Linked DNA regions of Homo sapiens. The protein of the gene in region 3 purifies or fractionates together with the protein of the main gene of each other region. This does not show direct contact. Each region holds a gene or a part of one and is shown on either strand. Other genes may lie near its edges.

What was found.
Region 1: the proteins of SERTAD2 (region 3) and HAPLN3 purify together in Homo sapiens (co-immunoprecipitation; 2 studies listed by BioGRID and IntAct, with this or other methods). This does not show direct contact.
Region 2: the proteins of SERTAD2 (region 3) and PPP2R2C purify together in Homo sapiens (co-immunoprecipitation; 2 studies listed by BioGRID and IntAct, with this or other methods). This does not show direct contact.

Annotation. Positions count from the first base shown.
Region 1 is NC_000015.10:88,892,433-88,899,573, forward strand, and holds the start of HAPLN3 (hyaluronan and proteoglycan link protein 3 isoform 2 precursor), read right to left. Parts: upstream 3,113-7,141; 5' UTR 3,027-3,112; intron 681-3,026; coding exon of another isoform or gene 542-680; intron 1-541. Other genes in the region: MFGE8 (lactadherin isoform a preproprotein), read right to left, coding at 6,963-7,100. UniProt on the Homo sapiens protein: May function in hyaluronic acid binding.
Region 2 is NC_000004.12:6,462,526-6,469,637, forward strand, and holds part of PPP2R2C (protein phosphatase 2, regulatory subunit B, gamma), read right to left. Parts: intron 1-7,112. UniProt on the Homo sapiens protein: The B regulatory subunit might modulate substrate selectivity and catalytic activity, and might also direct the localization of the catalytic enzyme to a particular subcellular compartment.
Region 3 is NC_000002.12:64,631,035-64,636,939, forward strand, and holds the end of SERTAD2 (SERTA domain-containing protein 2), read right to left. Parts: exon of another isoform or gene 5,890-5,905; intron 5,842-5,889; 5' UTR 5,838-5,841; coding exon 4,893-5,837; 3' UTR 587-4,892; downstream 1-586. UniProt on the Homo sapiens protein: Acts at E2F-responsive promoters as coregulator to integrate signals provided by PHD- and/or bromodomain-containing transcription factors.

The DNA.
Region 1 (7,141 bases), on a different chromosome or scaffold from region 3:
GGCGACAGAGTGAAACTGCATCTCAAAAAAAAAAGAAAAGAAAAACAAAAGGAATTATAAGAAAAGATCAGCCCTGTGCCCAAGAACAAAAGGCCAGGAGGAAGCTGGCCATTTTCCAGGCCTCTCTGAGAGAGGAGCAGCACACAGGCCCAAGGTTTCAAGTTAAACTCATTGAGGTTGGGTCTTGGCTCTGCCACCTGCTAGCTGGGTGACCCTGGGAAAGTCATTTGACCTCTCTGAACAGAAAATTTCCTCTCTCCAGAGAAGACTAAAGGGGAACTCGGGGGCTGAGGACAAGCACAGCCTTGAATGCTAAGGTCAGTGCACAGGACAGAGTCCTGTGTGGGAGTCAGGAGTGGCAATTGCCACTTGGTTGCTGCCTTGCCTCAGGTCCATCTCTGACCATCCCTGACCACTACCACTGAGGGGAGGGATGGGTAGCCTCTGCTCCCCTACCATGGCTATCCAGCCACCAACTCCTCAGGACCACCACAGAGGTGCCACCAGCTGGAAGGCCCAAGACCAAGTCCAGCCCAGTCACCTTGGCAGTGGATAGTTCCCCAAATCTTCTGGAGTCCTGTCTGGGCACTCAGACCTGGGCTCGGTATTGGAGCTGGACACACTGCATCCTGCTGAGTGACTTCGGGCAAGTTCACCTCTCTGTGCCTCCATTTCCTCATCTGTAAAAAAAAGGAACTTAAGGCCGGGTGCAGTGGCTCACACCTGTAATCCTACAGCATTTGGGGAAGCTGAGGGGGTGGATCACCTGAGGTCAGGAGTTCGAGACTGGCCTGGCCAACACAGTGAAACCCCCATCTCTAATGAAAATACAAAATTTAGCTGGGTGTGGTGGCAGATGCCTGTAATCCCAGCTACTGGGGTGGCTAAGGCAGGAGAATTGTTTGAACCCAGGAGGCGGAAGTTGCAGTGAGCCAAGACCACACCACTGCACTCCAGACTGGCCGACAGAGCAAGACTCCAGCTCAAAAAAAAAAAATGGGCTGTGGTGACAATTATAGAAGATGTATGATGTCTGGTCCCTGGCATGCAGCAGGTGCTCAACAAATGAACATGGCAAAGATTTCAGGCTCTAGAAGCAGATTGGCTGCCTGCATTCAGTTCTGGCTCCACCCACTTACTAACCCTCTGTCATTGGACAAGTCGCTGCACCTCTCTGAGCCTCAGTTTCTTCATCTTTAAAATGGGGGTCACAAGCCAGGCACAGTGCCTCATGCCTGTTATCCCTGCACTTTGGGAGGCTGAGGTGGGCAGATCACCTGAGGTCAAGAGTTCAAGACTAGCCTGGCCAACACGGTGAAACCCCATCTCTACTAAAAATACAAAAATTAGCCGAGTGTGGTGATGAGCGCTTGTAGTCCCAGCTACTCGGGAGGCTGAAGCAGAAGAATCGCTTGAACCCAGGAGGCGGAGGTTGCAGTGAGCCGAGATTGAGCCATTGCACTCCAGTCTGGGCAAGAAGAGTGAGACTCCATCTCAAAAAAAAAAAAAAAGTTGGGGTGGGGGGGGCGGTCACGACAATACCAAACAGAAAACACTCTCGTGAAGATTAAGGGAGAGAATAGCTGCAGAGCACTGAAAATACTGCTTGATGCTTGATAAGGAGCAAGCACTGGGAAAATATGACCTGTTACTACTCTGGTGAGCAGTTCACACAGTGAAGTCTTACACCATCTCAGTGGCTCTTTCTCCTCTCTCACTGCCTACGAGACAAAGTGGTCACCACTGCCTCCTCTTCACAGTTGAGGAAACTGAGGCCAAGAGAGTGGAGGTCAGTGAACTACCCAAGGCGTTATCTTTGTCAAATATCTCGAACTTAGAGAAAGTTCAGGTTTCCTGATGACCAGCCCTTTGCTTTTCCCAGGCGCCCCAGCCTAGGGACCCCTCCACCCAAGAACAATAAGCCTGGGCTTGGAGGGAGGGTAGGTGCCACCTCCCTGCCAGGTGCATGTCCGCACTGGGCCTTCCGTGAGTACAAGTCCCCCAGGTACCAGCAGGAGGCAGCATCGCCCGCGAGGTCTGCACGAGCGCTGCTCCCAGCGAGAAATTTGACATCCCTGTCCCTGTTTGCACAAGGCTTGATCTCCGCCTTTGAAACCTGCAGCCCCCAGGAGAATGAAAACCGGAGGTGTTTCCCAATCCGCTGGCCCGGGCGGCGTCGAGGGAGAGAAGCCAGGGCCCCTCTCAATCGCTGCCCCCTACTCCAGGGAGCACAGGCACTCCCGCGGGTCAGCGCTGGACACCAAGGTCCCAACAGGTTTACAGGCTGCCTGTGGCCTGTGGCTGCCAACGAGCTGGTGGCAGGACTGGGTCCAAGTGCCGTGCTGTTTCCATACTGGCTGCGCACAAGCCTACGTTTCTCCCTGAGGGTCGCCATCTCCCACCCAGGGCTCTGCCCTCCACCCTCCCTACCCTTCTGGCCTCGCTGTCCCTGGGGCAAGAACCCCGGTGAGCGAGGTCTGGAACCCATAGGCATCAGTTGCCTTTGCCCCAGGCGCCCAGAGCCGGCCAGCTGCGGTCCAGAGGCGCAGGTCCGCCAGCCGCCTCGCAGGTTGCCCTCAGCCCCTCCCAGGACTCCCGGGGCCCCCGGAGCATCCAACAGATACCCAGGGGCAGGGCCTGGGGCGCCGCGGACGGCACTGGAGGCAGCCGACCCTGGACAGACGACAGGGGAGAGAGCCAAGCGGACCCTGGCAGGAAGGGGGCTGGAGGCGGACGGTGGTCTCGGAGGCCACGGGGTCCGCTCGGGCTCTGCTCCCTCACGGTGGGCACGAGGGTCCGGCGCCCGCATCCCCGCGCCGCTCCCTCCCCACTTGTGCCCCGGGCGCCCCTCGCCCGCGATCACAGCCCATCTCAGCCCGGGCCTCCGCAGTGCCCGGCCCACGCCTCCTGCCCCTTCCCCGGACCCTGCCCGGGAGGTGTGGGGACCCGCAGGGCACCCAAAGCGGTAAGGGAGGAACCCGGCCCGCACACAGCCCCAGAAGCCCAGCGACCCCTAAGCCACGTACCGTCCCCAGGCAGCTCCTCGACGGCTAGAGCTCTCGGGGGCCGCGAGCTGTCCCGGTCCAAGGCAGCAGTCTGATTTCGGGGAAATTAAAAGGGCAGAAAGGAAGCGGCAGCAGAAAAACCCCCGCGCTCCCGCCAGACCAGCCCCTTAAAGGAACACGCGCACCTTTCCCTCCCAAGGGCTGGGCTCGAAGGGAGGAGCTGCTGCAGGCTTGAGCGGTCTCCAGACTCGCTGGGAACCACCGCAAAGAGGGTGTGCAAGAGTTGAGGCCCTCACGTCTTGGGAAAGGAGAGTAGGGGTGGAATAGGAGAGTTTGGGGAGGGGGGATCCCCTTAGAAAGCCTGGTATACCAAAAACAGTGGGAGTAAGCAGGGGAAGCCCCTGTCCAGCATTCTGCTAGGGGCTAAGGCTGCTCCCCACCTTTGATTGTGGAAGGGGTGAGACTTCTGTATTACTTTCTTTTCCAAATAGAAAGCAAGGGGGTGAGGCCAGGTGCAGTGAGTGGCTCATGCTTGTAACCCCAGCACTTTGGGAGGTGGAGGCCGGTGGATCACCTGAGGTCAGGAGTTCAAGACCAGCCTGGGCAACATGGTGAAACCCTGTCCCTACTAAAAATACAAAATTAGCTGGGCGTGGTGGAGCATGCCTGTAATCCCAGCTACTTGGGAGGCTGAGGCAGGAGAATTGCTTGAACCCAGGAGGCGGAGGTTGCAGTGAGCTGAGATCATGCCATTGTGCTCCAGCCTGGGCAACAAGAGCAAAACTCCGTCTCAAAAAAAAAAAAAAAAAAAAAGCAAGGGGTTGCTGATGTCCTCATGCCCCTGAGTTTGGCCATCATGAAACACTGGCCAGATTCCCAACTCACTGTCAGGCACATAGCAGGTGCTATCCCCAGCACATGGGGCTTGAATGAGTGGCCCTGGCTGGGAGGGGAGACACAGGGTGGGATACCTCTGCAGCCTGCAGGGGCAATCAGGCTTCTGAGTGGTCCTCCAACAGGGGTGGGCCTCCCTTCGGAATCCTGCTAATCAGCACAGCCATCCAGGCAGCCGCTCAGGATGCCTCTGTTTGGACAGGGTGTTTTCTTTCCTGTCCAGACCAATGGGGGCCCTGGCCTGGACAGCCCGATGTTTCCTCAGCAGAAAAGACTAAGGAGGTCCTTCAGCTTTGGCTGGGGGAAGGGTCGAAGGGTCACAGGGTCACAGAGCTCAGAGCCTCTTCCTAAACACAGCTCAAGTTGGCCCATGAGTGTGTGTGTGTGTGTGCATGTGTGTGTGTTACACACAGCCAGGGGCACATTGGAGCACAAAGAACTGTGATCAACAGGTAAACTACACCTAAAAGGAACGCCAGGCTTGATGGGCAAAGGGGAGCCAAGGTAGGTCCCTCTGCAGGTTCCCGACAGGGGAGAGGATGGACAGTAGGGAGAGCACATTTTGCTACAGTTAAGTCGAGTTGAACATGCCAGCCAGGGGTAGGGGTAGCCAGCAGGTGGAATCTGAACGCTCACCCTCTGCCTTGCAGTGGGGCAGAAAAAAGTCAATGTGTAGGGGTGATGGTAAAAGCTGGGCAAATGGAAGACACTGCTGAGGGAGAGAAGCCAAGGAAGGAAGGAGGGGGTCAGGAGTGAGGGGACTCCACTCCAGGGTCCCAGGAGGGGGACTTTTAGAAGGCTGTGGCCAACCCATCCCAGAGCAGAGATGCTTCTCCCACTGTCTGCTTATCCCCAGGGTATGCTGGAACAGGGGTTCAGGGCAGGAAACTCCCCCGGGAGGGAGACCTGAGGCTTGGAAGCACGCAGAAAGGCTTGGCTCTAAACCCAATCCACACCGCTCCGCAGAAGAGAGCTCTGAAACGGGAGGCAGTAGGCCAAGGGACACCCAGGGGAAGGGAGTCCCCCATCCTCAGTTCCTACGAAGACCACGGCCTGGGCCTTTTATTCAGACCCTGCTAGGCCCAGGAGCCCAGCAACCGCAGGTCTCAGAAAGGAACCACTTCCAGACACATTTCCCTGATGTGGTTCCAGCAAAGCCACGCCCTCCCTTTGGCAGCCCTGTGGCCCCACCTCCTGCTGCTCAGAGGCGGCCCCACCTCCTGCTGCTCAGAGGCGGCCCCACCTCCTGCTGCTCAGATGCACCCCCTGCCTGCAGAACACAGCCGGCTCCCAAAGTTTGGAAAAATTCACCTTGACAAAGAGGGTGGTTTTTCCTACACCCCTTCCCAAGCTAGCCAAGCCTCTGCCTGCAAGTCACCCTTCCAGATCACCAAGACACTGGCCCGCAAGGCCCACCCCCACTTCTTGATGACCCCCACACAGGGGAGGGCAGAGAGGGTATCCCTGGAGCACACACGCCAGTGGCCTACCAGGAACCAGTGTGTTCAGGCAGGAGGCCTCATGCCCACTTGGCAGAGCCCCGGCCCCCTCCTCCAGTCCCACGCTGCACCCACCCCAGGAACTCCCGCAGTTCGGAAGGCATCCAGGTTCACTGAGTTTCTTATAGTTTCTCCAGCCCACCACTCCAGTTGCAGAGAGAATGGAAACTGCTGAAGGGGAAAACCAGCTGCCCCAGCCAGTCTTCCTGGCAGGAAGGGAGCAAAAGCATTCAGGAGACAGTGTCTGCCAGCACTCGCTGGGCCCCTGACCAGGCAGCAGTTGTAGGGCTCAGGGCCAGACGGCATGGAGGTAGAAAGCAGAGGGAAGAGGGGAAGTCAGGTTTTGAGGACCTGGAAGTCCTGACTTCCTTCAGGCCGCCCTGGACCAAAGTCTCCAGCCTCCTGCTATGAAGCTATGTGTAGTCAGGCAGGTGACATAAAGAAAGATGGGGCTGGGCACGGTGGCTCACGCCTGTAATCCCAGCACTTTGGGAGGCCGAGGCAGGTGGATCACAAGGTCAAGAGATTGAGACAATCCTGGCCAACACGGTGAAACCCTGTCTCTACTAAAAATATAAAACTTAGCTGGGCATGGTGGTGTGCACCTATAGTCCCAGCTACTTGGGAGGCTGAGGTAGGAGAAATGCTTGAACCCAGGAGGCAGAGATTGCAATGAGCCGAGATCACACCACTGCACTCCAGCCTGGCGACAGAGCAAGACTCCATCTCAAAAAAAAAAAAAAAAAAGCAAGCAAGCAAGCTGGGGCTCAGGGAGGACCACAGGTGGGGGATGGGGAAACCAGCGCAATTTAAATCCCATTCCCATGAAACAATAACGAACCACACCAAGAGTTCCCGTGAAGAAGATAAATATATTTTGGAAGCTGCCTGTGTCCTCTGGGGTGAAAAGCCAGCATAGAGGGCCCCAAACGCCCACCCTGCCAACCCATGCCCTCCTCTGACCTCGCTCCCTTTCTCCCCATAGACCCGCCCCACCCCCTTCTGTGTCGCTGGGCTTCAGGACAAGGGGCAAGAGAGGCAACCAGGGAGACAAGGGGAAGTGTCTTGGGGACAGGGGGCCACAGCAGTTGTGGCCACATGGTACCCCAGGGCCGACGCAGGGCCGACGGGCAAGAGGCTGTTATCTCCAGCCTGGCGCTTCCGGGCCTTTCTTGAGGCCACCATGGGAATGTGATGTGTGAGAGAGGGGCTAGGAGAGACAGAGACACACGCACCTGGGATCGGCGGTCCGGACAGGGGCAGGGAAACCACACGCCCTACTTTGCCCTTTCCTGTCCATCCCAGACCTACTCAGATCCCTCAGTGCCTAAGAAAACAGGACAGTGAGGACTGGGGGTTAGGGGACGGGGCTTAGGGGCTGGGGCAGGGCCCGTGAGAGGTGGAGGGTGGGAAAGAGGGAGGGAGGGGTGACTGTGTGGTGGTGCTGCCTCTGAACACCCTCCCCTTCCCCAGTCCCCAGCCCTATGGTGATTTAAAGGGGCTGAGAAGCCAAGAGGCAGCGGGCCCATGGAAAGCAGGAAGACCTGGGGGTGGCAGGTGGCCACTAACAGCCCAGCAGCTCCAGGCGCAGGGCGATGCGGTTGTGCCAGGCTACAGGCAGGATGCGCACATAGCGAGCCAGGATGGGCGTCTCAAACAAGTTCTTCTTGTGGGAGTGGTTGTCCCAGTTGCCAGGGAAGATCTAGAGGCAGAGCGGGTGTCAGGAGGACCCCGAGCCAGCCC
Region 2 (7,112 bases), on a different chromosome or scaffold from region 3:
GCCTGAAAAGGGGATGGAGGCTGAGTCTAGGTCAGAAAAGACAAGAGACAGAACAGCCAAACGCAGGTGCAGGACTTTGGATCCTGGGCCAAACCACCCAACCATAAGAGACATTTCTCAGACAACTGGGGACGTTCATAAAATGGACCAGAATTTAGGTAACAAAGAATCAGGATATGTTTTGTGAGGTGGGATAACAGCACTGGGCTACAAGAAATGCCCTCAACACTCAGAGATGCCTGCAGATGGAACGGGGAAATGACAGGAGTCTTGGATTTGCCTAAAAATTCTTCATCCAAAAGCAGGGGAGAGTAAATGAAGGAAGTACAGCAAGATCTTGATAGATTGGAAGCAGTTCAATAGACTATTTTCTCACAAATGCAAAGAAGTTTCTCCTCTTGTAACAGTTGGCCAGCAGTCCCTTCCACAGAGTGATGAGGGGCTCCAGGGAGCGGCATCTCTCCCTTCTCTGGGACAGAGGGAGGGGGGAAGGTGCACTCCCTTCTTAAACACTTTGGCCCAGAAGTGGCACAAATTTGAAAGTTTGCATCAAAACTTTTTTGAAATTGTAAAAAAACATTCAGAAGCTAATCATGATCATGAAAGAGCTCCCTTTTATTGAGATTAACCTACAGAGTGTGCACTATTTCATTCAATTCTGCCTGAAAGCCTTGCTGGTTGGGAGCTCGCTCTCTCTCTGCTTCATAGATGGGGAAATTGCCCAGGGGATGAAGAAGCTGCCAAGGGCACGGCAGCTGTGCCAGACCCAGAGCACAGGCCTGGGAGCCCAAGCCCAGGTCCAGCCTCCAGCAGCAACAGTCCTGGTCCTGAGGAGGGGTGGGGGTGGGGCTGCAGGAGGCCAGGCCAGCCTGGAGGAGGCCCTTGGCCTGCAGTTGGAGATCCCATCCCTGCTTGCGGCAGCCCACACCCCAGCTGGGAACCTCTGAGCAGCCTTTGTTCTGCCTCAATGGGACATTCAGCCCTGGGTTCTGGAGGACAATGGCCCCCACTGTGCAAGGAGGGCAGTGCCTGTCCTGGGCAGCACAGGGGCCCCCAGGTGTGTCCTGCTCCCGGGCCGGCTGGCAACTAACTAACTGCCTCCTGGTCTCAAGCAGAGGAGCTGGACACTGTCAGGGGACAAGTGTTATGCCACTTTGCACACACCGTTCCTCCTGCCCAGAATGCGCTAGAATACCATGTCCCAGCACATCATCACCCCCCAACCTGGAAATGCCACCTGCCCTTCAGTCCCTGGACCACGTGTCCAATTGTGGCCTCTGCCACTGCCATCTACCTGTGCCGTGAAGGGGGTCTCTCCTCCTGCTGAACCCTCTCGATTGCCTTTCATCGCAACACAGATAGCAAGAGCACCAAGCCAGGTAGTCTAGTTCAAATCCCAAAATCTCCTAAGTGTGGTGCATAATCAGAACTGAACAGGCCACCTAACCCTGCCCTGTGGGTCCCAGCCAATTAATGTAGCAGTCAGGAGCGTGGGTTTGGCAGGCTGCATTCAAAACTCAGCTCTGTCCCTTACAAACTATGTGACATTGAACAAGCACCTCAGCCTCAGTTTTCTCCTCTGTAAAATGGGGAAATAATATACACAACATCAGGTCTGGGGCATCTCCAATGAGATGCACGCAGCCTCATGTCCAGCATATAGTATTATAGTACATAGCCAATAAATGGTGAATCATAATAATGGCTATTGTGTTTGTTTTGTAATTATTTCATCCTAAAGTCCACTTGGATCATTCTGCTCAAGGGCTTAATGGTGAGATGCCTGTCTTTGCAAGGCCCTGTGTAACTAACAGGACTCCCCAGGGTGCTGAGGGATGTACAGACTCCTCCAGCAGCTTCAGACTCTCTCCTGAGAAGTAGCTAGGTCCCGCAGTGGCACCCAAGACACTGGGAGAGGAGAGTCCACATTTCAAGGCAGACACAGCCTTGCTCTTCAACTTTGTATGTCTAGAATCTAATGTCACCCTGGCACATAACAGGGATCAGCCAATACCCGCTGAACAAAAGGAAAAAATGTTCAACCTCATTGGTATGCAGACGTGAATTACAATAAATATTTTTCATCTTTGATATTTGCAAAGGTCAAACAAATTAGACTACCTAATGTTGATCAGCATGTGGTTAAAGAGAAAAACTTTCTGGAGAATAATCTGCCAATGTGTGTCAACAACATTAAAAATGCTAGTGATCTTTATATGAAATAGCACGTGTGGAATTCCTTCTGAAGAGCATCATCCCAAGGTTAAGGGGGAACGATGGGAGTAGGGGGTCTTCACACACACAAATGGTGTTCATTCCTGCAGTGTTAGTTATGAAAATAAGAAAGTGTGTGGGGGAGAGACAGAGAGAGAGAGAAGGAAGGAAGGGAGGAAGGGAGGGAGGGAGGGAAGGGAGGGAACTAAATATCCAGCCATAAGGAAATGATTAATTGAACTACTGAATGATGACACATGTATCACAGGAATAGTATGCAGCCAATGAAATGATGGTTGTCAATACGTGTACTGTGTGACTTGGGGGCGGGGCCAAGGTAACCAGTCACCCCTCTTCCTTGCTGGGACTTGGGATTACACAGAAAAGACTGGCCGCAAGACAGGAATAAAAAAATCTGCTTTATTAATGGTAAACCTGTAGGAAAAAAAAGAGCTATGGACCCCTACTTCACCTCCCCACCCCTTGGTCCTGCGGGGAGAGGTAGGTCTAACTTCTAGCTTGTAAAATAAGATAACTGTTGGCCTCTCCCCTGTAGAGCAACCTGGAAGTCAGAGGCCCATGGACCCAATGGGTGAGAGAGGAGCACGGACATTTAATATTGTAACCCCTCCCCATAGGGAAGAGCTGCCCAATGGATGGCAGGCTCTCACCATTTCCACCAATCACGAAAGCCAAGGAGGTAGAAGGCAGGGCCAAGGAGTTCACCCTACCCAGAGTTCCAGCAGAGCAGGGCCAACCCTATAATTCGTGGGGCACAGGGAAAAATGAAAATGCAGAGCCTCTTATTCAAAAAGCAAAGGAAAAGCATCATTAAAGGTGCTAAGATACAAAACCTTTTCATGCCTTCCATATTTTGTCATGGTGTTATTTGCTATTTAATGTCAATTCAAATTTAAAAAAAAAAAAGCTTAAACTCTTAGCGTGCATTTTATCACTCACCATTCTAGTGTGCACCTCCAATTTTAAATGCAAACATAAGAGCACGTAACTGGAATGTAGACTCACCAAAATGCACAAGTTATATTTCGCATATGGATTTTGTTCTTACCAGAGCAGAGGAAACTAACTTAACTGTTCTTATTTCATTTCTGGATATGTGTACATTCTTCCAACACCCTCTACCCTTGGTTCAATAATAAACAAGGAAGGACTAGGAGGAAAAGGAACTATAGGTGCCCTCTTTTTCCCTTCCCTTCTGTGTAATCATTTTCAGTGTCAGCGATTGGCAAATATGGGCACGTAACACACGTTAAGAAAGGACACCATAGGGTTCCTGCGTCATTCATGTTTCTTAGAAGTCACTGCATGAGAACATCAATGCCTTGGAGCATTATTTGAAAGCATGGCCCCTGCCTGTGAAACTACAGACGCACTGAGAAGGTGCATGAGCTGTCCACTGTGCATGGGGCTCAGACGCTCAAGTGAACACAGGGTAGCGTGCTGTGGGAGCCAATATGTGTAACCACAGACTCGCCTGCCACACGTACCCCTCTGCTCATTCCCAGGCTCCCCCGTCCCATCAGATTTCGCTTACAAAACACAGGATCCAAAGTGAAATTCTTAAAAATTTCAAGATAGTAACAGCAGAACATGAACCCAAGCACAGGTCCTTCTGAGTGTGGGGACCTAGATGACCACACAGGTTGCATATCCATGAAGCCAGCCCTGGAGCAAAGCCCTGGAAAATTCCTATAATCTCATGCCAAACTAGAAAAGTAGCCTTCAAAATTGTTGATACAGACAGATTACAGTTTTCATTAAAAACAGACATGGGCATTAAAAAAAGACTGGAAGGAAATACCCCAGTTGCTGAGAGTATGTCCCTCTGCTTGGTGGACTCACAGGAGTTCACTCTCCTTCTCTTACTCCCCATCACACTCTCCATGGAGCCTAGCGCTTCATACAGCGGCTCTTCCAGTCTCAAGGCCTAAACACTTCTTACCAAACATCCCTTAGCTCTGCAAGCTTTAAGGATAAACACTAAAAAGTGTAGCAAATGACAACAGTCAGGAGATGGAGTGGAAAAATTTTATTAGAATTTGATTTTCATCTTCCAGAAAGAAAATGAGAAAAACCGTGCTCTGTGACTGCGCCAAGCTTTAAGTTCGGGTTGATTAAAAAGAAAGGAGCACATTGCTTACAGCAGGGGCGTGGGAGTTGGCCTACACTACAATTTGGGGAAATTGACAGCAGTCGCCTTTTACACGTGTAGAACTTCAGAGTCCACATGCCCTTGGCTCCTTACAGCCTCATGACAACCCAGGGCACCAGGCAGTGCAGGGAAACTGAGGCTCAGAAAGTGATGTGATTTGATGGAGGGCACCCCAGCACTGAAATGGAGCCCACACTCGCTGTGAAGCCCAAGGGAAGCTTATGTAAGTGGCGTTTCCAAACAGAAGCGAAAGGAACACAGAATCTGAACAGTCCACATCTTGATTTTCAAAAGTCAAAGGCTGACTCTCCCTAATCTCCCTCTGTGCCACCACTAATGTCCCCCCTCTTAGCCTCAGTTTCCCCATAGGTTGGGGTGGAAGTTAGGCTAGCCAGTCTGATGACAGTTCTAAGGGCTAGTCTAACTCTGGCCCCTAAAGAATAGACATCATCACTTACTGATCTATTAAGAATAAACTGAGGCTCAGAGAGACCGTGTGACCTGCCCAATATTACAGACCCAGGGTCAGACCCCACCAGGAACCCAGATCTCCCGATGCCAGATCTCAGGCTCTCTTATCTGACCAAAAATACCTCCTCAATAGGACTGAGGAGGGAAAACCAGAAATTGGCAACCTTGACTTGAGTGAAATGAAAGAGGGTTCTCAAAACAGAAAGCAAACAAAAATCCCTCTGGGTTTTATGTATCTCGAGTCTTAGCTGTGGGTTACAGATCAGCCTCCTGGTTTTCTTGATAAGCAGTCAGGGCTGTACGAGTTGGGGTGCTATGGGCTGCAAGTAACGGAGACTTGAAAGTGCACAACGAAAAGGAAAAGTAACAGCTCATGTAACTGGAAGTTCAGAGGCGGCCTGGACATCAGGCCTCTATGTCCTGGATCTCACTCACTCTCTGCCCTGCCATCAACGGTGGTGGCCTAAGACTTGCTCCCCTCATGGTGTCAGATGGCTGCCAGCCACCACAAGGTTTCCCTGTTCCCATCACAAGAGAGGGACCAACTACCTGTGGTTCTCCCTACTTTCCACTCAACCTCCAGAACTGACTCCCACATCCATTCTGGAACCAGTCACTGCAAGGGGAATGAGATCATCCTTGCACTGATCACATCCAGCTATGGCCTGAGATCTCTTACTAGGAACCATATGTGTTCTCCTTGGAAGAAGAGAGACTAACTGTTGTGGAGATCAGCTGCAACGTCCACCATAAGGGTGCAGATTTCACTGAATGCTGAGTCTCCCACAAGCAGCATCCCCTCTTCAGTGTGGTTTCCTGGGCAGAAAGTAGATGGTATCCAGGGCACAACCAGTTCAAAACCTGCAGACAATTCCATGCAGGAAAACCTGCCTGCCTGCTGCGTTCAGACAGCCTCAGGACCCCATGATGACCTTAGCAATTCCCAAGCATCCTTCACTTCCTCAACTATAAAATCAGGACAACTCTGTGGGAATAAACAGACTACTCTGAAATCACACAGGACATCCAGGGATGGGAGTTAGGAAAACATGGGTACATCCTTTATGCAGATGCAAAAAGCATGAGTGTCCAACAGTGTGTGATGGCTGAGATGCTCAAACAAGGGGAAGCTGTGCCTCTGGCCTCAGCTGAAAAGTGTGCTCCGGAAGTGCCTTACCTGTCAGGCACATGAGAGTGACTGTTGCTCCCCAGAAAGACCCAGTCACTGCCAGGATCTACCTGGTCAGCCTGAACCACCTCCCCTTGGCTGAGCTCCTGTGTCTTGGTCATCACTGCTGCCCAGGGCAGGATGTGCTTGGCAAATGGTGCTAAGCAAAGGAAGGATGGATGGGTTTTGTAAGTTCAGTCTAGTCTGGAAGTGCTTATTCAACTCACTCTAAAGCTAAGTACTGAGGCCTGCCGCAAAAAGAGAAAGAACAGAGCCAGGAAGAGTCCTTCCTGGAACCATATCCAGCTCTTGAGAAATGTCTAACTAGATGGAGACTTCCTAGCACCCTCCAGGGTCCAGGGCCCAGGGCCCAGTGCCCTATCAGCTGCACTGCTCTCCCCACACCCTGACCCCATTCATGCAAAGTTCTCTGTGCCCCCAGGTGGCCTGCAGGTACACCTAATCATCACCATAACCCTCAATGCAGTTGAGCCCAGCCAAGAGTAAGCCACCCAGCCCTGCCACCAAAAAAAAAAAAAAAAAAAAAAAAAAAAATCCAACCTGCTCTGACGAATTCACACCAAGATGTGAATGACTAACAAAACCTAAACTCTTCCTAAGATGTTTGAGATTTTACAAGAGACTCAGGAACCCAAGCAGGGCTCCCACGGGCAAAGATGACATTGGACATGGGGCCCAAAGGATGAGAAAGAGTCAGTGGTGAGAAAGGCAGGAGGTGGGTATTCCAGGCAACAGCCATTGCAAACGCCCTGAAGCAAGAAAGAAAATGGCCTGCTCAAGGAACAGGAGGTAGATCAGAGCAGCTGGGGTGTGGTGGGGGAGTGTAGACTCAACCACAGGTAGAACAGGAGTTTGTGCACCTGGTTCTTCCGCAAACTGAATTTTAGCATCCACTGTTTGCCCACAGGCTCTTCCAGTTACAAGGCATATAAATAATAACAATGCCATGTGTTCAATGCCTCCAACAACCCAAGCACTGTGCTGGGCACTTTTGATATTAGCAAAATCACTGATCATCCCAGCAACCCTGTATGAAAGGTCGTTATTATTTCTCCCTTTACAAAG
Region 3 (5,905 bases):
CGCTATGGTGAGGATGGAGAGGTGGTGGCAGAGGGAATGACATGGCTGGGACTGCGGAACAGGGTGCAAGGGTGGGCAACTGAGCCAAGCGTGGAGCAGAGTGCTGAAGACAACGAGCCCACAGAAGAATCAGCCCCCAGGGGAAACGAGAGCTCTTTAGACGCGCTGAGAGTGAGGGAGCAAATCTTGGTAGATACTGAAGTCTGGAGCTCAGGAGAGAGGCAGGGGCTGGAGACCAGTTTTGAGAGTCCTGAGTGGATTAGATCACCTTGGGAAAGCAAGAGGCAGCAGGAATGGAGGCTCAGTGAAGTGCAGTCATGGGCCAAACCCTGGAAAAGACAATGTTTTAAAGAGAGCTGGGGCACAGATGTGAGAAAAAGGAGGTCCAGAAGGGTCCAAGAAGCAGGAGGAGAACCAGGAGAGAAGGGTGGTTCCTGAGACCAGGACGGTTCAGGAAGACCAACAGCACGCACTCCTTCGGGGCCCCCCTGCTGCTCTCTCTTGCTGGACTTTGCTTAATGTGAGCAAACTGTCACAAATAAGCTGATTGAGCTCCCATCAAAAGAAAACTGCAAGCATGCCTCTCTCATCTTTTAACTGTTTATTGTATAATATAAAACTACAAAAGTAAGACTGCTCATTTCCATGTACATTTAATCTGTCCAATTGTTTAGATTACAGCCCAAACCTACATGTGAATACAGCCATCTGGGTTCCGATGTAACGTCTGTAATATTGCATAGAAAAGGCACAGCTCTCAGGTCTGTGGGGGAAAGGTTATACCTCCTTTTTGACAAAAGCCCTCCTCAAAAACCATGCACCAAACATGTCACTATGTACATCTTTTTTCAAAATCTCGGTCATGCGCACATATGGCCTGCATTTCTCTTCCAAAACTTGTTATCCCCAAAAGAAGTCCAACTTTTTATTGGCTTTGTCTGCAATAGCATTTGATCCTGGCTAATTTTCAAGAACCATTCAGACTCATTCTTAGAAACACTGAAAACAATTGTACATAAGCAGGATGCACACAACTCCATGCCTCCAGGTGCGGGGCAGTTACAGGAAGGTAACCATTTACAGCCAGAAAAGGTTAAATATACTCTTTTCATTGTTTTCAGAAAATGTATAAAGGTCCAATTTGTAACAGCAAGGTTTTCAAATTAAGACAATTCGTATAGAGTAGCAATTGCTGCACGAAGTAGAGTCTTTTTTTTTTTTTTTTTTACATTTGTCATTTAAGAAGGCTGCCCTGCGGTATTCATAATTCATTGTTTACCACAAAGGTGGTTCATAAATTTAAGCTTTAAAAACGATCTGTAAGTTGATACTTTGGCTCTTTGGAGCTTATTTCATTAAGAAATTTTCCTTGATTGACCTCAGGGCAGCTGGGGCACTCCAAGGGGCTATGGCGATAAAAAGCTCAATTGGTAAAGACACTCGAGAGGTGCAGAGGAGGCTCTGGCCACTGCTCACCCTTTGGTATGAACAAGGGTGCCCATGTGGTTGCTCCTTCTGTCATCCAGAGAAAGTGCTACTAAAAAAACTTTAAAAAATATCAACCCTTTGATGCTTTTCTTAAAAATTTGGAGGTATTAAAACATTCCTCATACCTTTTGCATATTTCAAATAGACCCATATTAGAGAAGAGTAAAAATGAATGCGGACTGTGCATACAATGAGAAGACCTGGGGGCCTGGCTTGGACCCCCTTTTAATACAGATTTACATTCCTACAAGAGAATACATTCCTACCATACATTCTGCACATGTTACGATCCAGATGTTAGCGCTCCACAGTAAAATAAATATATTTACACAGAAAAAAGGAATAAATAACTTATGGGGGGAAAAAAACTCACTTCAAATTCAAAGCTCTTACGATTCTGCTCTCATCTTGTCACTTCATTGCACATCAGTGTCAATAACTGTCCTCTCCCAGCCCCAGCTCGGTTTTCTCGTAAAGGCACCTCAAGCTGCCTGCCTGGCCCTGGATGCCATGTGATGTCTTTCATAAAGGGAAGGCACTGCTGGAAGCACATCCCACACTCAAACTGGGACTTGGAGATCCCACTCCAGCTCCTACTGTTCCCTGTTGGGACATCACTTTGTAAGAATAGGATGCAAAAGCAATTAGAACCCTAGATCATTTTGATCTTTCTGAAAATGGGCTGCTAATTTTCCATGTCTTTCTTGTTAGACTTTGAGTATCAGGGATTTATGGCAACGGTGTCAGAGTTAAAAAGCATTTGCCTGCTGTTTTTGGGGTTTTTGTTTTGATTTTGAAGCCCAGCCTTACAAATACATAAGAGTCAGAGAACCAAGTTTGGGCAACACTTCTCCGTGCTTATTTGAACTGTTGCCCAACATATGGGATTTGTTTAAACACATGATTTGCTAATCCAACAAAAGTACAGTTGTTGTAAGTTACTGTAAATCAGTTTTTAACAATGGCAAACCAACTGTTTTACCCTGTTATTGTTCAGAATCATCAATACTATTGTATATGTGTACGTAGGTAGATGTGTGCAGCATGCGGCAGGTTTGCCAGGTCCTCCAGTTATAGAAAGCATGGAATCTGGGCAGACTTGTTCTCTGCAAGAAAGGGAAGCTCTTAAAATTAACAGGCATACTGACACTGGAAGCATCTACTACAACCCTCACCTCAGTTACATGGTCCCTGGTCCTATTAAAGGAAATGACACACCTGTAGCAGTACGAGGTGTCTGCGTGGAGGTTGCTTGTAGGAGAACAAGTGCAATTTGATCAGTTTCTCACTGCTCTACTGAGCTGATAATTAGCCTTTAAAACACATTCAAGTGGGGGGAAAAAGTAAATTAGAATGTAGAAAGCCTTTATCATATCATACTCAAATCTTTTGCTTAGATGAGCAGTTCCTTCATCACAAACGTCTTTGCTTTGCCATGTGCATTACAAAAATAAAACTAACTATGGCTTGCTTAAAGTGCCATTTTATAAAGTTGTCTTTTTTAATTAGCCAGAAAGACCCAATTTTATCCATGGCAAGAAGTGAGCAGAATTGGTGACTGAATATTGACAAATGACCAACAACAAAGACAACAACAACAACAAAACATCCCATAATTTAAAAATTTTTAAATAAATATAAAAGTTATTCCTAAAGAAGCCATCTGCATAACAATATAGGTTGTAACCTGCACTCAACAGCTAAAGTACCATTGGAAGAAAAGAAAAAACTGAAACAAGAAGGCCATAAACAGTTTCGGCAACAAGCATGATACATTGCAACCTTTTTAAAATTAAATGTACACCACTAGGAATAAAAAGCTACTTCTCAAGTGTGTCCTGGGAGATAAGGTGATGGGGGGGGGAATTGGGGGGAGGAGGGAAAACATGCATAGAAAGTCCTGTCTGAGTTTTGGGGTAAAACAGCCTTGACAAGTGTGAAGTAGCTGACTCAGGAAAGCAACCAGATGGGAAGCTGTGACGTAATGTGATGAACTCCAGGTTCAAGAGTCACACATGTTGTAAGAGTGCATCCCGGGCCGGCCGAGGCGAGCCAAGCTCACTGTGGTGATCACGAAGATGCCATTTTCAGCTCTTAGCAACACAGGGAAAGCTCTAGGGAAAGGAAGCTGCAGAAGACAATTAAGCAACATGATGGATGCCTTCTGGGGAGATTTTCTTCTTTAAGGGCCCTAAGCATTGCAACAGGGCTGAGTTCCATGAAGAAGTTGGTTGCTTTTCGGATGTAAAATTTTGTTCGGATGTAAAATTTCAGGTCATCATAAAAATTATGCCAAAAAGGAAAGATCTGGGTTTTCATTAAAAAACAAAATAAAAACAATTAAAAGCGCAAACTTGGCATAAATACACTCTTAAGAAAGACAGTAGCTTTACCCTCAAAAGAGGGAGCAAAAGAGAACCATCACTTAAACCCCCAGCTCCACAGCCATCTCCCGCCAACTGCTTAATGCAAGTTTGATGAGCACATGTGGCTCTGGCTTTGGAAGTCACAGTACTGGCGGGTGTTGGTGCCAGGGGGTCAGTGCTTGTGAAATTTGGGTGTGATATCACCTGGCCCTTTCTTAAAGCACTGTGTGTGTGTTTATGGGTGTGTGCATGTGTGTGCCTGTGTTTGCATTTGGGGACATCAACTGCAGATTGATTTGATCCAATTTTCTCTTGCACCATACACATATAAAACATTACAACTCTATAAAAGTACAAGTGCAACTTGTACATCTGAAGTTTGCAGGAACTATGTGAGCAAATCCTATCAAAATAGCTATCTCATATGTATAAACAGCATTTGTTTTTAGAAAAACAATATCATAAACTGCAGAATCTGTACAAAAATATAAAATAAATTTGGGCAGCAGTTTTCTAAACAGCCATGTAAATGCAACACTTACGAGGAGTAGTTAATGCCTCTAAAAAGGCCGAATTGCCAAGTCAACCTATACAGGGCAAAAATGCCAGAAAAGGTACTGAGATTATCTAAATAAGATATATATATATAGTTTTCTTCTTTACCTCTTGCAATAAAACTTATAGAAAAAATAGACAAATATGCACATGCAATTTACAGCTTTTCCAACTTAATCCTTGTGCTTCACTTGAACTGTTTATTTTTGTCATTCAACATTGCAACATTGTCTTCAAATGGATTCTTTCCTATACCAGGGTAGTAGGTCTCTGAGGAACCACTCAAAAAAGTGTATTAAAAGTGGTCATACTTGGATGAAGGCACTCCAACTCTGCTCAAAGCAAAAACTAGTGTGATCCTGTTGTAAAATTTTCTTTTTCTCTGAAAAAGGCAAGCAAGGGTGCATGCACAGTGTGGAGAACTGTCAGGGTTATGGGAACGCTCTGGGGTCTGGGTGGGCATAGTCGCTGGGTCCCTGGGTCTTAGGACCCAACAAGCACCTCCATGATGTGGTCCAGCTCTGTGAGGTCCATTTTGAAAGGCTGACTTGGGGTGACAGGCTGACTGCTGTAAGGAGCCAGAGTTTTGAGGAGGTCGTCGGCAGACACAGGGGCCATTTTTGAGGCTGTCCCTGATGAGGAAGTGCAGGGGTCAAAATCATACATGGACGTATCAATGTCAGCAAACAGGATGTCATCCAGGGTCAAGTCTGTCAGGAAACCCGTGGACGTCGTTATTTCAAAATTCCCAGGCAGAGAGTCCATCAGTTTTGAGTCATCTGCGCGGCTCTCTTGAGGACCGTCGAGTTTCTGGGTGCCAGCCTCGCTGGAGGTCCCTTTCACACTGTCAGTCGCAGCCGTGGCCGCCTCTGTGGAGGTAGATGTGGGACAGAGCTCCTCGATCTCGTCCAAGGCAGAGGAGAAACTGTCCTTTTCTGGCAAGAGGGCTGGAGGTGACAGTTTGGTGGGAGCCGTGGGCTGCATGGCCTGGGAGGTGCAAAACGTGTCATCGTCGTCCTCGAGCAGTGAGGCCGGGGTGAGGCAGGCCTCCAGGGGCGTAGTGCTTCCGAGGTCGCAGGGGTGGGAGGACGGGGACGCCAGGTGGCTGAAGGCCGGCGGGGCCTCTCGGTAGCTGTCGCTGGGCTCGGTGGTGGGCTGGGAGGAGGGGGTGAACATGGGCCTCAGGCTGCCTTCCTGTTTGAGTTCCTCCTGGATCCGCCTCAACATGTTGTTAATTAAAACGGTCTTTTGCAAGCTGGGCTCTGTCAGGGGCCTGTGGTTATAGAGTTTCATAAGGGAAATGTTGAAGATAGTCTGGCGCTGTAAGGTGTAAGACACCTTGGATGGACCGTCACAGGGAGACACGATTTTGCCTTCCAGCCCATCTTCATGCTCATCAAACTTCCGTTTTCCTCCTTTACCCAACATATATCTGCAGAGGGGAGAGAGAGGAAATGGCATTAATCACATGAAAGCTGATTTCTCCCATAAAAAAA